2 separate regions of the Homo sapiens genome follow, and region 2 is linked to region 1. Evidence: fine-mapped expression QTL. Tissue or cell type: whole blood. Region 1 holds a variant in brackets; the other region holds the start of a gene. All regions are shown on one strand. Distances are between the middles of the regions.

Region 1 (8,173 bases):
CCTCTAGGCACGATGCCAGGCGCACAGAGCACACCATGGGCGCACGGCATCAGATTGCTTTCCGGCACTGTGTCCCGCCGCCTACAACGCGAACACTTGCCCTTGCGTTCAGCACCATTATCTCCCTGGCCCAGACGTTATCCCTATGTTTTCCTATGTTTCAGTTTGCCTGGGCTGCCATCAGTAAATACCACAAACTGGGGGCGTAGAGGAACACACTTCCTCACAGTTCTGGGGGCCGGAAGTCCCAGATCAAGGCCTGGCAAGTGCGGTTTCTGGTGAGGGCCCTCTTCCTGGCTTGCACATGGGCGCCTTCTCCCTGTTTCCTAACATGGCAGAGAGTGAGCAGGCTCTGGTGTCTTCTCTTTTTCTTTTTCTCCTCTGTTTTTTATTTGTGTAAATGTATAGGATACAACTGTAATTTTGTTGCATGCACAGATTGGAAAATGGTGCTTGTAGGGTATCTATCACTCAAATACCCTGTACTCATTAAGTAATCCCTCATCTTCCACCCTTCCTTATCTTCTAAGGACACCAGTCCCATTGTGAGGGCCCCACCCATATGATCTCATCTAGCCCTGATTACCACCCAAAGGCCCCATCTCCAAATACCATCACACTGGGGGTCAGGCCTTTTAGGGGGACAGAGACATTCAGTCCATAACACCCCATTCTACAGACAGGAAGGCGTATGAGGCCCAGAGATGTTAAATGCCTTGCCAAGGAGCACAGGGCCTGTCTCCTAGCTCCCAGCTCCATGCTTTCCTCACCACCCTGACTGCTTGCAAAAAAGCAGTGTCAGACATGTGGCTCACTTACAGACGCACACAGGAGTTTGAGGATGACAGGCTCCTTTGACGAGCCAGAGACTCTTGCTTAGGAGACACCTCCAGTCTCCCTACTCAGTGCCTGATCAACCTGGAACACAAGACCTGGCTGCCTCTGGCTGACCCCAGATGGGACCACTGCTCCCACTTGCTGCAGTCCTGGCTGCAGTCCTTTCTATGTAGAGGTTCCATCCCAGCTCTCCTGCTGGCCTTCTGTCCACCCTCAGTGCCTGGCATGGCCTAGCCCGGCAGCTTCCCTCCAGGCTGAGGGTCTTCGGGCTTCCCACACTGATTATGAACCTGCTGTCAGCCTGGCTCTGGCTCCTCTGGGCATATCAGTGCCTCCAGTCCCTGTGACCCAGTGGGGCTTGCCCTCCTCCAGCTTCTTGCTGTACAACCCCTTAATTACAGCATCAGACTGAGTCGTTGGTGTGGGGGAAAGGCTTCAGCAGGGCCTCCACCTCCCATCACTGGCTTCGCCTATTGGGCTCCCACCTTCCACCCAGGTCAGGGGAGGTAGCTGTGAGCTCGCAGCAGAGCCTGCAGCCCCAGCTGCCTTCTGGGAGGAGCTTGAGGAAGCTGCAAGGGTTTGTCCAGGCTCCCCTATGTGGGAGCCTTGGCTGGGAAAAGAACGGAAGGTGAACCCAGCCTCTCCGGGGGGCTGTTTGCTCTGAGCTGCTTCAGAAGGACCACTCAATTCCCTCTTGAACCACTTACCCGATAATTATTTCTAGAGAGTGGAGAGAGAGGAAGCAGCTTAAATCAGCCCCCCATCTCTGAGCACTCTGGAAATAGCTCAGCGTGTTCAAGGACCAGGCTGATCTGCCAGTGCTGCTGTTGTCTTACTGCTTCTCAATTCCCACCCAAGCCAGGGTGAACCCAGACCACAGGAGCCCCTCAGCTCCACCTGGCCTCCCGGTGGCTGTCAAGATCGGGAGGACTGACCTCCAGCCCCCAGGAGATCCCAAAGCTGTTCTGGAGCATAGAATCACCTCTGGGCTCCTCAAAACACCTGTCACTCCAGGTTTTTGTTTGTTTGTTTGTTTGTTTGTTTGTTTTTGAGATGGAGTCTTGCTCTGTCGCCAGGCTGGAGTGCAGCATCGTGATCTCGGCTCACTGCAACCTCCACCTCCTGGGTTCAAGCGATTCTCATGCCTCAGCCTCCGGAGTAGCTGGGATTACAGGCACGCGCCACCACACCCAACTAATTTTCGTATTTTTAGTAGAGACAGGGTTTCACCATGTTGGCCAGGACAGTCTCAGTCTCCTGACCTTGTGATCCACTCACCTTGGCCTCCCAAAGTGCTGGGATTACAGGCGTGAGCCACGATGCCCAGCCACTTCAGGGTTTTTTTGAACACCTATCCTTATGCCTCGAATGAATGTAACTGTTAAGCATCATATAGTTCCCTGTTAGACGCTCAGACCTTCCTGCAGCTGTGCAGCCAGGCCCCGTCCATCTAGCCGACACATGCAGTGTCTTTTGAGAAGCTCCATTGATTAGGATTGTGGCAGGATGGAAACATCTCCCGCCTTGCAGATCGTGAGCATCAGCACTCTCAGGGCCCTTCGTGAGAGCTTGTTGGACAGATGGGCATCCTCCCCAGCTAGGCAGAGACACTGTGGCCTCTAAGGGCTAGCTGGAGTCATTGCTGCTCCTCTGAGCTTCCAGAGCCTTTCCCTGTGCACCTTCTGGGTGAGCAAGCATGTGTGCACACGTCTGCTTTCCTGTTAAAAAAGAAAGGTGAAAGAAACCAGGTATTGCCGGGAGAGGTGCTTCTGTGACAGGCACTAGCATGCTTGGAGGGGAGATTGGGGGCAAGGCTGTTGGTGTTCCTGCTCAGGCTGGCTGGCTGGGCAGCTCTCCTCTGGGCAGGCCTTGAGGCTGGGGGTGTCGGATAGACAGCTTGGTGATGGGCAGGGGGTCTGCTGCACATCACAGGTGCTAGTGCCCTGCACCTGTGTCCTCTGTGTTCTTGGTGTGTGCTGTCTCCGGCCTGAGGACTAATTGCTGTGTTTGAGGTGCTTCAGCCCTCATGTAGTTACCAGGAAGCCATAGGTTCCTGCTAGAGCTACTGACTGGGAAGTTTCCCATGCACTTAAGGCCCCTGCTGGCCAGCCCTGCCCCAGCTGGGTCTTAGACAGGCGGATGCATCGCTGGGTTCTGGCCTCCACAGCCCCCAGTCCGAGCTCCAACAAAATGAGCTCCAAGATATTGCCAGGCCCATAGGTCGTGTGCCCTCTGAGGGGCAAAACGCTGGCCTGCCTACTGTCTGCATGGACGGGGCTCAGGCTATCAGGTCTCTATAGCATTTGGAAGAAATTCTTTTGGGACTAGGGGCTTTGGGCTTACTTGATTGGTTGTTGTCTTGTTTTGCTTTTATTGAGGTGAAATTCACAAAACATTAACAACCATTTTTAAGTGAACAATTCAGTGGCATTTAGTATACTCACAATGTTGTGCAACCACCAACTTTAGTTCCAAAACACTTTCATCACCCCAGAAAGAAACCCCATATCCATTAAACAGTCACTCCTCACTCCCCCTCCCCACCCCCTGACAATCACTAATGTACTACCTGTCTCCCTGGGTTTGCCTGTTCTGGACATTTCATGTGCATGGCATCACTCACAGTGTTGCTCTTTGTGTCTGGCTTCTTTCACTCAGTGTCATGTTGTTGGGATTCATCCATGTCATAGCATGTGTCAGTGCCTCATTACGTTTTATGGCTGAATCATATTCCACTGTATGAACAGACCACATTTTGCTTATCCATTCATCCATTGATGGACATTTGGGTTGACATTAGCATACAAATATCTGTTTTCTTTTTTTTTTTTTTGAGATGGAGTCTCGCTCTGTCGCCCAGGGTGGAGTGCAGTGGCGTCATCTCAGCTCACTGCAAGCTCCGCCTCCCGGGTTCACGCCATTCTCCTGCCTCAGCCTCCCGAGTAGCTGGGTCTACAGGCGCGTGCCACCACCCCTGGCTAATTTTTTGTATTTTTAGTAGAGACGGGGTTTCACCATGTTAGCCAGGATGGTCTCGAGCTCCTGACCTCGTGATCCGCCCGCCTCAGCTTCCCAAAGTGCTGGGATTACAGGCGTGAGCCACCGCGCCCGGCCTACAAGTATCTATTTTCAATTCTTCCGGGTCTACACCTAGGAAGGGAATTTCTGGGTCACATGGTGACGCTATGCTTGATGTCTGCAGGAACCACCAGACTGTTTTCCACAGTGGCTGCACCATTTTACATTCCTACTGGGAATGTATGAAGTTTCCAGTTTCTCCACATCCTCACCAGCACTTACTGTCCTCTTTTTAAATAAATGCTACCCTAGTGAGTATGTTTTGAAACAGAAGAGTCCCCAGGTTATCTCAAGGGTCCTTCTGCCCATCTTTCAGACCAGCCAGCATGCTGTGTCCTTCTCGGAGGCTTTTCTGATCTCCATGGGCAGCATGAGTGATTTCTTTCCCTGAATCCTCGCAGTTTCCTGTCAGTCCCACACCTGGGCACCTAGTGCCTTCCACCTCTTTGTGGGTGTCTGTCTGCTTCCTGCTGGACAGTGAGTGTCTCAGGGCAGGGTTTAGGTCTGTGGGTCTGTTTTCCCAGTTTCTGGCTCATATCCTCTTTAGTGCACATGGGCTGCTCCTCCCTCCCTCACCCATGGCTCTAGTGCACACACACACACACACACACACACACACAGACACATATGTGTGTCCACACACAACATATGTACATGCAAGCACAGCCACCTATGCATACAGGTATGTACACAAATACATGCAGACACATGCACAGACCTATACAGACACATGCATGCACACACAACATGCACACATATGTGCACATGTGTACATGCATCTCCACAGACACACACACACACACACATACACCACAAGACC[C/T]AAGGGGGTAGTGCTCCTCTTGGTTGCTTTTTCTGTTTTTTTGAGATGAAGTCTCACTCTGTTCCCCAGGCTGAAGTGCAGTGGTGTAATCTCAGCTCACTGCAACCTTTGCCTCTCGGGTTTAAGCGATTCCTCTGCCTCAGTCTCCCCAGTAGCTGGGATTACAGGTGCCCGCCTCCATGCCTGGCTAATTTTTGTATTTTTAGTAGAGATGGGCTTTCGCCATGTTGGCCAGGCTGGTCTTGAACTCCTGACCTCAGGTGATCCACCCACAGTCTCCCAAAGTGCTGGGATTACAGGCATGAGCCACCATGCACAGCCAGTTTCTTTATCTGTAACCTAAGCTAGGCTCTCAGAGAGCATAGTTTCCCATTTTACATATGGGGAAATTGAGGTCCACAGGGCCAGGGTTGGAGCTCAGATCTCCGGGCTCCTAGGTGGCCTCTTTGGGACCCCTAGTAGGCCAAGGGAGGCTGCTGCCAATCTCAGAGGTGAGGGCACCCTGGCAGGCGGAGAGGACCAGGAGGTGCCAGTGTCTAGATTGGGGAGGAGGCAGCATTGGGAGGGATCTCCCCTCTCAACCCCAGCCTGTGCTGTGGCTCCCAGGCCTGAGGGCAGAGCAGGTGGGCAGGAGGGGAGAGGTTCAGGCCACCCCGACTTGGAGACCCAAGGCACTACCTGTGCCCTTCCTGTCACCAAGACCCCTACTGTCAGCCCAATTTCCATCTTGAGAGCTCTTGCCCCTCCTGCAGGGCTGGTGTGAATGCCCCTCTTCCAGGCAGCTTCCTCTGACCCTCTGGGTCCTGAGGGCACTCATTCTTCCCAGCCCCACCTGCCCGTCTGTGCCCGCTCTAGCCTTTTTCTAACCTGCGGTTCCTGGGGTTCTTGTCACTGTGGGGTGATGGACTCAAAAGTGTGAACGTACGTCAGAATCACCAGCTGCTCCTTTACATGTGTACAGCTTATTGTATGTCAGTCATACCTCAGTAACATTGCTAAAAAGTAAGTTAAAGTCACCTGACTTTCCTGTGCACTTCCTGTGCCAAGGGCTGAGTTGCAGAGGGGGATGAAAGTCCTTCCCGTTCTCTGGGAAGATAGATTTCACATACGTTTCAGCACAGGCTCAAGGGCACAGTCTGCACTGGCCTCCCAAGATGGATAGGCCTTCAAGAAGACTGCTGTGTTTTTGTGGAAAGAATAATAAGAAGACCTTAGTTCATCATTTCCCACTTCTGCCACTTGCCAGCCAGTGGCAGCTAGGAATAGGCCTTCCTCTCTGCAAGCTGCCCCGCTGGAAGGTTGTGAAAAAGATGGGCTGGGCTCGCGCGTCAAAGTACCTGGCACCCTGCTGGAGCAGCACTCAATATACACCGTGTTAAAGGTGAGAAAACAAAATCGTCTGCCTGGCTGGGAGAGGGCCATCCGTCCGAGGTGTTCAGCGAATGTGTGCCGCCGAGGGAGTGGCCGGAGGTGGCCTGGCCAGGACCCTGGGAGCGGCTGCTTTCAGGGGTTTCTTGGTCTTGATCTTTCTTTGCATCCTCCCCCAACTCCTTCGTTAGCCCCTGGGGAGCCAGGCCTGTCTCTGCTGTCCAACTGCCGCTGTCTCTGAAAACAGTACCGCAGCACTGTTTAGGGGAATGGTAGGCAGGGACGAGGGGGTGGCTGCTCATGTGGCAGAGATCAGAGTGATTCGAGAAGAGCTTGCTCCTAAGTGGCATGACTGAGTAGCTGTGCCAGGAGGGGCCTGCCCCCCTTGGACGCCATCACTGGTGGGGAGCCAGAGGTCAGCTTGGGGAGGACTGGCTGCCCTTGGTGATGCCAGCTTTGAAGTTCCTGGTGACAGTTGGAACTAGAATCCATTCTTCATTTGACCAATCTTTACCTAGCATCTATTTCAGGAAACACCAAAGTGCTATACAGGGGGTCCCGTCTGGCTCCCAGTGGCTCTGCCACTGACTGCAGCCCTCACACCCCTCCACAGCCGACTGAATCAGTGTCCAGCAAATGATCAGAACCTGCTTTAATCCTCACGATAACCTGCACAGTTGGTGGTACTCATCCCCATTCATCCCCATCCCCAGATGACAGCTCGAGGCTCAGAGATATCAAGGAACTTGCCCAAGGGTGCATAGCTGGCCTAATGATACCAGTCTGCCCAGAGATGTGGTGGGCTGCCTTTTTCACATTGCTTTTAGTGGAGCACTTTGAGGTCTCCTAGTTCACCCCTTCTCTGAAGTTCCAGCTGTTGGAGGTTACATGCTCTCCACCCTGTCTGACTCTGAAGCCAGTGCTCTCCCTTTCACAGCTCTGCCTTCCAGTGCTCAGATACTCAGAGCTACACATAGCACAGGGTCACCTATGGGTGGCAAGGCCAGGGGTACTGGAGTCAGCATGAAGAGTCACCATACACTGGGGAAAGTGCTGGTGACTGAAGATGTATGTGGCCAAGGGCTGGGTGGGAGGTGGTGAGGACTCCACCTGCCCCACCGAGAGATGAGGGACAGGTGGGGGGCCATCAGTGTAGTGTGCTTGTTTCTCCAGCAGGCAGGCTGAAGCTCACTCACAGGAGGCCATTGTGGGCACTCACCCCACTGGTGACCAGTGTCCCCCCCAGAATCTGCATCCACCTGCAGTCTCAGAATGTGGCCTTATTTTGAAATAGGGCCTCTGAAGGTGTAATTTGTTAAGGATCTTGAAATGAGATCATTCTGGATTTAGAGAGGTCCCTGAATGAATGACTAGTGTCCCTATAAGAAAAGGAAAGGACCAAGACACAGGAAAGATGAAGCAGAGATTGGAGAGATACAGCATGGGCCAAGGAGCACTGGGAGCCAGCAGCAGCTGGAAGAGGCAGGAGGCATCCTCCCTAGACCGCACAGGATGCTACTGGGTGAGCCTGCTGTCCTGGAAAAGGCGTGAAGTCTGCCTGAGTGGGCAGGGGCTTCTGCGCAGCCACCCAGCAAGGCCAAGGTGGAAGGGACCCTCCTGGCCCCTGTCCTGGCTCCACCCTCAGCTGCTGGCAGGTGGGTCACCAGGCCTCTGCCCAAAGAAACTCCTGCAGGCAGCTCTGGACCCCCTGTCTTACACACCTTCTCACTGAGCCTGCCAGCATCCCAGGTATCTTATTTCCTGGCGCTGCCATAACAAAGAACCACAAACTGCATAGCTTGAAACAATAGACATTTATTCTTTCACAGTTCTGGAGGCCAGAAACCAGAGAGGCAGGTGTCCGCAGGGCTGCACTTCCTCCAAAGGTTCTACGGGTAGACCCTTCCTTGTCTCTTCCAGCTTCTGGTGGCTCCAAGCATACCTTAGTTTGTGGCCACGTCACTCCATTTACATCGGCAAAGACCCTATTTCCAAATAAGGTCACATTCCAAGGGCCTGGTGGGGACATTCCACCCATTACGCCAGGGCATGGACAGATAGGTAGTCCTG
Region 2 (8,173 bases), 49 kb after region 1:
CCTGCACGCTGGGTCTGACCGTCTGCCCTCTCTCCCCAGCACCAAGCGTGACCTTGGCTGTGGCGCTCAACGGCCAGCTCCGGCGGCCCCTCTGCTGCTCCTCGGCTTTCCCGGAAGTGGGAGAGCCTGCCTGGCCTCGGCCTTTGTCCAGCGACCAGGCTCTGTCCCCGAGAAGCTACGGCCGACCTGGGTCTGGTGTTGGGACGCATGGACCGGGCTGGGGAGGTGCACAGAGTGATGTTAACTTTTTCCCGTGTGTAGATATGTACAGCCAAAGGGTCGTGTAAATGTTCTGCAAAAGTGGGTCTATACAGAGTGAAAGCTATTTATTTTGTGCAGAGAAAAAAGTCTGGAGGGATGGAACCTTCAGGGTTTATTCATATTTAAGATGTAGCTTTTTGTTGTTTCAGGCATTATGTATAAAGCAACGATTATTTTATGGACCAAGTTTTCATGTAACTGTTGCAGTGAAAGTGCAATATCTGACCCCCCTGCTCCCAGCAGGAAGTTGCTTGGCCCGACAATCACAGCCCCTGTCAGGGGCCCTGTGGCCAGTGCCTCCTCCTCTCTTGGCCCCACCTTATCCTGTCTTGCCTGCTGCCTGGGAGACCAGCCATCCAGAGAAGCACCTGGAAGAGTCTCGGGCCCTCCTGCAATAAAGGCCGGGAGGCCCTGTGGGCAGTGGGCTCAGCCTCTCCCCAGGGGGGCAGCTCCCCCACGGCTCCTCACTCCCCGCCTGCCTGCCCAGCCGCCAGCCATGCCAAGGACAACAGCAATAGTCCCCTGGGGCTCTCCCAGCGGCCCTCAGCCATAGATGGCAAGGTGGGCAGCCTGCCCCCCCATGGGAAGTCTCTTCTGTATCCAGGTCTGCTTTCCACCTCCCTTCAGATTCCTTTTGGCACATTCTCCTCTTGAGGAAGTACCAGTCTTTCTGAAACTAAGAGAGGGAGGGCAGCGTCCTTTAAAAATACCAAAAATGTTTACAGAGTTGGGTGCTGAGCTGCAGGGCTCAGGCCTGACCAGTCATAACCAAAGGGTGAGGCAGGCCTTGCTGACTGCCACCCCCCAGGCCTGTTAGAATAGAAGCCTTAGTCCCACTCCCACCACACCCCCACGCCCCACCACCTGCCTTCTCTTTGATTTCTAAAGAGGGATTCAGCAGAGACCCCCCACCCCTCCCTGGCTCGGTCTGAGTCCCACTGCCCACCCCATCACAGCCTTCACGTCTCAGCCCCTCCCGTCTGGTCTGTCCGTGTGCCGTCTGTTTCTCTGGGCCATGTGTGAGCAGTGTCCCCATCTCCCCATCCGTCCCTGCTGTCCCCGCATCATTGGGCCTGAGTGTGCTCTGTATACAACGTCATGTCTGTTACACCAATTAAAGAAGCGGGAAGGCTTCCTTCTGGATCTCTTTACTGCAGTGGCGACCGTGGGGCATGGTGGGATGGGGGCATGGAACAGTAATGCTAGTGACACTCACAGTGACGCCAACACGTGAGTGCGGGGCTGACTCTAGGCCTAGCCTGCTTCTAGCTCCTTCCTGGGATGGAACTCAGTTTGCCCTCACAGACCTCAGTGAAACGGGTGCTGTGAGCCTCCCTGCCTCAGAGTGGAAGACACAGCTGGGCAGTGAGAGCCAGACCTGCCACACAGGCCACCCAGCCCCAGCACCTGGCTCTGCACTGCTGCGATCTGTGGAATGAACATGGCAGGGGAAGCCGACTCTCTCCATGCCTGAGTGCATGGCATTTCAGAGCCAGCTCTCTGGGTTTGGGGTTCAGCTGGCATGAGGTCTGGTCCAGGCAGGCTGACCTGAAGAGGAAGGCACAGGCGCTGGTGTGGCCTGTGCTCACGACCACCAGAGGACACCCCAGCTTTGCCCAAAAGCTCCCGGAGCCCTTGTTTTTCCCTGGCAGTCATGTAGCACCCTTCCCTCCCACTCAGCACAAAAAGCCACAGAACAGAGAAAGTCTATCCAGGGGGCCTTTAATAGCTGAGAAGTGCTGCTCTTTCAGATGGGGGTGCCAAGCAGGCCGGTGACCCCAACCTCCACCCCCTGCCCCTGAGAAGAGACTGGGCTGGGCCAGAGACCAATCCACGGGGGAAAGGCCACCAGCACCCATCAGGCTTCCCACTGGCACCCTGAAACCTGCCCAGGCTGGGCCGCCAGCGTCGTCCACAGGCCTTGGCCAGCGGGGGCCCTCAGGGAAGCAACCCAGCTCGCATCTGGAAGGCCAGGCAGTCCCCTCGGGTGGCTTGCTGGGGAAGAAAGCACACAGGAGGAGGGGTACATCACAAACAGAGCTGGGGGCGGATGGCAGGCAGAGGGGCCACACCCACCTTGTTGATCTCTCTGTGTCGTTCTTTGGTTACGATTTCCTCTAGGACCTCGCCATCTCCCTTAATAAGCCTGGGGGTGGGAGGGTCTCCGTTCAGCAAGGAATAGGCAGGTCCCCTAATGCCAGAGGAGCAGAACCACAAGCAGCCGGCAGAGGGGTCCCAGGGCTCCCACCCCGCAGCCTTGAGTGGACAGACCCTGGGGCCTCACCCACTCTCCCTGATGAAGGCAGTGGAGCTGGGCTCTGCCTTGCCAGCCTCAGCCCGGCCAACAACAGCCCTTTCAAGAGCCTCCTCCAGGCCCTTCCAGCCCCTGCAACTACTTACTCCAAGTGACCGTATTTTTGCCCACATTTGGCCTTTTTCAGGCACCAGGAACCCCGCCCGGCCCCACTCCTCCCGAGAGCACACATCTTCAGCCAACACTCCCAGATCCTGTGGTGTAAGTCAGGCCGAAAGCTCCCCACCTGGTGCGCCCCGTCTCAGGGTCCACCACCTTGCGGATGATGCTCTGCCGGGCATCCCACTCCTCCTTGGTCATGGGCTTCATGGCCTGGATTCGGGACTTCTGCTCATCCGTCAGGACTGGAAGGGAAGACGGAGGTGGTGGCCAGGCCTTGGGAAGCGACCTTCTCCCTCTCAGGTGCTGGGCAGCACAGTACCTGGGCCATCCTCTTCCTCCCCAGCTGATCGGTGCCACTGGTCCAGCGAGGGGCCCGGCAGAGCCTCCACCTGCTGTGCTTCCGCCTTCTCCTTGCCCTTCTTCTTCAGCTTCTTCCTCTTCTTCTTCTTCTTCCTCCTCTTGTCCTTGTACTTCCCCCGCTTCTTCCGGCCATCACTGGAGGAAGAGGAGGAGGACGAGGAGGAAGAAGAGGAGCTAGAAGAACTGGAAGAAGAGGAGGAGGAGCTGGATCTTGTTCTCCTCCGGGCCTTCTGCTTGCTTCTCTCTGTGATGCAGGGAGAAGGTGAGGCTGGAAGGCCAGGAGGGGAAGAGGTAAACCTTCGTCCCCTGCTCTGGCCTGGGGCAGGCACAGACCGGCTACAGGGTGAGCGCTTCCTGAGGGGCTTTCCAGAACAGAGATGGAGCTTCCCAGAGGAGCCCCTTCCTGGCTCCTGCGGCGCCTGGCCCTCACATCTCAGGCCCGGCTGCACAGAGGCATGACTGAGCGTCCCCGACCACTGCTCGCCCGACTTCCCCGGGTAGTAACTGCGCCTCCTCTCCCCGATGCCTGTGGTCCTCACCCTCCGCCCCAGGGGCCGTGCTGGCCTTGCGACCTTGGGATGTGGAGGCCGAGCAGTTCCTCGAGGTGTCTTTCCTGCTCTTCTTCTTTCTCTTTTCCGACCCCCGTCCCCGGGACCGGCTGCGACTCCTCGAGCGCTTGCGGGAGCCGACGTGAGCCATGGCGCCGCGGGCTGGCGACGAAGAAGACGCGCTTGAGCCGAAGCCCCCAAGGCCGGCCGCGGGCGGGCTCCAAGGGTGGCTCTAGCGGGGCCGGGGCCTGGCGACGCCCAGTACCCGTCACCGTCCCGGGAAAATGAGCGACCCTCACCCACCCCCAGCGCTGGGGACCCCGGTTTTCTCCGCCGACTCCAGTCCCCGCAGCGGTGCCTGTTAAGGGCCCGCCCCGTGCCCGGAGGCCCCACGCCTGCGCACCCGGCTCCAAACCCCTGGGAACTGGCCGCCGTCCGCCGCGAGTGGCGTCTGGGGCGCTTTCCCGCGCTCTCCTACCCTCCAGCCCCGCGCCCTTCGCGGCCTCGCCGCCTCAAGGGGGCCCCCGGGGCTGCTCCGTTCCCACCTCGACCGCCCTGCGGGCCGGACAGCCCGCCCCGCGCCTTCTCGAGAGGAAGCGGCGGCGAGGAGGCTTCCGGCCGGGGCGCTGCGCGGGAGGCTGGCCGGCTGGGAAGCGCGGCGCCGCTGCCTTTCGTTCTGACGCCCCAGGTTCCGTCCCGGGCGCGCCCACCTCCCGCAGAGGCAAGCAGGGGCGCCGGCCCTCGAGCTCCGCAGCCCCTCACGCCTGTGTCTGCCGAAGCTGCGCCCACTTCCAAGGCTGCCCTCTCGGCGCACGCCCGCAGCACCCACGCCCCCGGTGCCCTGGGAAGAAGGCGACCCTCGCGCGCGCCGCCCTCCTCCCCGGCTGGTCCTGCCCTCTCCATACGACTGCGAGCTCCAGACTGAGGCGCCCTGGTCTTTCCGACGCGCCCACCCAGTGACTCAGAGGTCGCAAACTCGTGTCCGTAGGGGCCAGAAAGATCTTGGCAGTGAGCGCGGGCATGGACCCCAGGCCCATCCGGAAGGAAGCCAGGATTCTGCTCCAGCTGATACGTGCAACGTGGCATGGGGCTGGTGCCCCACCTTCCCAGGGAGACCAAACTCAAGACTGCAATATGGAAGCCCCCTGAGTTTCAAATGTGTAACCCAAAGCGTGGCTGTGCGCTTCATCCAATCTCGGGCCCCCAAGTTGCAACTCTTCCACAATGACAGCCGCAAACACAAAGGGATCTTGCAAAGCACTTTATATACGTCAGCGCATTTGACTCCCAAAACAGCTCTAGGAGGTAGGTGCTAAATGAGGAAACGAAGGCACCAAAAGGTGAAGGCTCACCTAAAGCCACACAGCTGGAAGTGGCAGAAGCAGAATGGGAACCCGGGCAGCCTGGTTCCTGGCCCTGCCATTCACCCCTCTGCCATCTAGAAGATGCTACTGGTGGCCCACCCGAGTCCACTGGGGGGTGATGCCTGCTGCTGAGGGTTCACATCTGTGCTCTCTGGAGGCTTCCCTTGGCTACTGGAAGGCACCCTGCCCTGGAGATAAGTGTCTGGGAAGTTATTCACTCCTCTCTGGCCCCCTCATCCAGGAGCCAGTAACCGGTGGTGTGGGCACACTGTGGTACTGTGGGCTCTGCCTGGAGCTCTCCGTGGGGCCAGCTGAGGCTGGACGTCCTCTGAAGCCACTTCCTTGCCCAGCTGCTCCCTCCCCTCCCCTGCTTCCCTGACTCCCTCGCTGAAGCCCCATTCCAGACCCTGCTTCTGACAAACCTGAACTAAGGCAGCATCTTTGCCCATAGAATGACCCAGAAGCTGGCACACCGTTGAGCCAAGAAGTGCAGTAGGCTGCGGGGATTTTATTTCTGCCCCCAGACCAAGGCAACGGAGCCCTCACCTGCCTGCCACCCCCACACTGGGCCCAAGCAAGCTCAGGTGAGCGCACATACATCCACCGTGGCGGGCTCCTCTCGGGTGAAGCCATCACCGAAGCCCTCATCGTCCACCAGGTCGGGCTCACGGCAGCACATGGGACAGAGGCTGTTGCGCACAGCAGAGGCTCGGAGCCAGACGACAAGGTTCCAACGCTCACCAGTGCCCAAGGGCCGGGCTCCATGCAGCTGGCCGCCACGGTGGAGGACACCCTGGCCCACCACGTGCTCCACCTCCAGGGGCTCCGTCAGGGCTGTGGGTGCCTGCAGATGGCACGACTCAGGCCTGGGCACTCACAGCTGCCCCAGGCCCTGCCGCATGGGTCACACACTCACCTGGAAGAGGCCCCCAAAATACAGGGCGCCCCCTGTGAAGACCTTGCCCAAGGCCACATTGAGGGTGAGCTCGGCATTATCATAGTGGCAGCCCAGCTCCAGGTCCTGGCCCGGTGCGTATTTGACCACAAAGGCCCGGTGGCTGTCGAGCCGGCCCCCGCCACAGTCAGGGTACAGCAGGGCCATCAGCGGCTGCAGGAAGCGCTCCCGCAGTGGTGTCATCAGCGGCTCGTCCAGCCCGAGCTCGTGCAGCAGCACCTGGGAGGGGATTCCTGGGGTCAGCAAGGAAACTAGAGGGCTGCAACCCTGGGCTTCCACTCCACGGTGATCCCACTGTGACCTTCTTTCGCAGCCCGGGCAGGCAGCCCATCTGCAGAACCTCTGACACTGCCTCCTGACCCCAGCCACCCCCTCCTCTGCCACCGGCCAGGCCTCACCCACCCCGTAGTTGTTCATGGTGTTGGGCCTCCCCTTAGGCATGTCCGATTGCTCGAAGTGCTCCAGCTCTTCCAGCAGGGCCTGGCAGAAGGGCGCTGTGAAAACAGGCACCCGGTAGATGCGCTTCTCCTCTGTGGAAGGAGGGATGGTCTGTTGGCCTGAATGTGGCCGTGGGCCGGCCAGGCCTGGGCTTCAGTCTTCCTGTTTCATCACCTGTGCCATGGAGATGAGGCCTTTGCTTTTCAGGGCTATTGTGATGACTTAAGGAAGTAACATGAGGAGCAGGGGAGGCCGATTCCCATGCCCCCCACTTATGCCCGGAACCTTTCCCCAGACTCTACAAGTGTCCACAGGGCTGGCCCTGGGAGCTCACATATGGGTCCTGAGGCCCAGAGAGGGGAAGGAAGTAGCCCAGGGACACCCAGCAGGCCAGTGACAGCCAAGTCGGGATCACAGAGCCAACTTCAGGCTCTCTCTGCACCTCCTTTCATCTGATGAGCCACCGAAGTCTGTACCCCAACTCAGAAGTGGCTCTGGGAGCCTCTGTCCCCCAGCAGGAAGGCCAGAAGGGGCTGTTCTTTCTTGCTGGGCCCTGAGGGGGAAGAAACCAGGCTGAGAATGGAAACCTAAACATTTCTTGGCGGACGCACCAATGCCCAGGGGTGCAGGGCTAGTGTGCCCACGATGGGGCCACCTCGCAGCCTAGGCCCTGCCCCAGCCAACAGCCTCAGCACTATCTCAGCTGCCGGGGAGTGGAAGGCAATGAGGAGAGCACCCCCAGGCTGGGAGGAGGGGGATTCATTCCACCCATGACTCCCAACAAAGCACAGGCTCCATGAGGGGAAACTTGTATCTGCCTCCCACAGGAGCCCCTAGCCCAGGCTATCAGTGCCAATAAGAATAGGAAACACTTTCCAAACACTACGTGCGGGCCCTGTGACAGGCACTCTATGCAGATTAACTCACTTGATCGTCGCAGTGCCTTAAGAGAGGGGGTTACTGTTGCTCCCATTTTACAGATGAGGAAACTGAATCAGAGGTTAAACAACACGCAAACCTCCCTTGCCCAGCATTTCCTGCTGGGTTTAGCCAATAAGTGAGCCCAGCAAGAAATCCGAAGAGAAGTGGGGCATTTTTTGCCCTACTTGGAGTTTGGCATGGCCGCAGGCCTCCGCCCAGAGCCACAACTCCAGGTGGTAACTGCTCCCTCCTGTTGCCAGCCCTGGGGGGCCGGGCTTTGCCATTCCTTACTGGTCCCTTTATCCTGCCCATACCTGTCTCAATGGTCCCTTTAAGATCTTGGATCAGCCCTGTTTGAGTGTGCCAGCTGTCCCACACATGACACAAATATCCACTATTTGCTGGATGAGGGCACGAAGGAAGGGTGAAGGAAAGAATGAAGATACCAGGCTCATGGCAGGTATTGAATGAATGAATGCGGATGTCCTGCTCCTGGCAGGTTGGTCCCACTGACCCTTCCAGCTCCTGCTGGTTTGGTTTTTGGAGGCAGAGATGGTGGCTGGAGGGACCCCAGCATCCCACACCCAGGTTTCCCAGGCTGCCATTCCCTGGTCCTGCCAGGTCTCAGGGCCAGGACCTCACCCGATACTGTCTCCAGCCGCTGGAGAAGGCCCTTGAGGTCTGCGTCTGGGGACACGCTGTACTCAGTCACGGCCAGGAACTCGGGGGCCAGAGCTGCATCCTGGGAGCAAAACACACCAGCTGTGGGGCAGGCAGCACCCCCAGCCCTGGATGCTACCTCCTCTTTCCAGTACCGGCCTTCAAGCACTCTGGCTGGCTGGTACCTGCAGTGAGTCGTAGACCTCAGGCCGTGCCGGGTGGTAGGAACTCGCGATGAGGGCTTTCCTAG

What was found. PIP is the estimated chance that this variant, and not a neighbour inherited with it, causes the effect.
Region 2: it holds the start of ARL6IP4, and the variant in region 1 is fine-mapped to the expression of ARL6IP4 in whole blood (TOPMed, PIP above 0.99).

Annotation. Positions count from the first base shown.
Region 1 is chr12:123,026,190-123,034,362 of GRCh38, reverse strand. All of the region lies in intron 3 of PITPNM2 (phosphatidylinositol transfer protein membrane associated 2), which reads left to right. Among named protein-coding and RNA genes, the nearest start is that of MIR4304, 20 kb to the right of the region's middle. RefSeq lists enhancers at 4,886-5,843, 5,844-6,802. The variant C/T (reference allele first, on the strand shown) is at 4,736.
Region 2 is chr12:122,976,703-122,984,875 of GRCh38, reverse strand. It overlaps ARL6IP4 (ARF like GTPase 6 interacting protein 4), which reads right to left and starts at 4,195. Exons shown (of 6, transcript NM_018694.4): 1 at 4,131-4,195; 2 at 3,577-3,747; 3 at 2,997-3,305; 4 at 2,802-2,919; 5 at 2,338-2,407; 6 at 1,967-2,256. The coding sequence starts at 3,736. The coding sequence ends at 2,200. It overlaps OGFOD2 (2-oxoglutarate and iron dependent oxygenase domain containing 2), which reads right to left. Exons shown (of 7, transcript NM_001304833.2): 3 at 8,109-8,173; 4 at 7,906-8,005; 5 at 6,307-6,434; 6 at 5,866-6,123; 7 at 4,834-5,793. The coding sequence ends at 5,530. PITPNM2 (phosphatidylinositol transfer protein membrane associated 2) reads left to right here. Exons shown (of 26, transcript NM_020845.3): 26 at 1-1,396. RefSeq lists silencers at 3,779-3,878, 3,889-4,528 and enhancers at 3,611-4,116, 4,117-4,622, 4,779-4,998.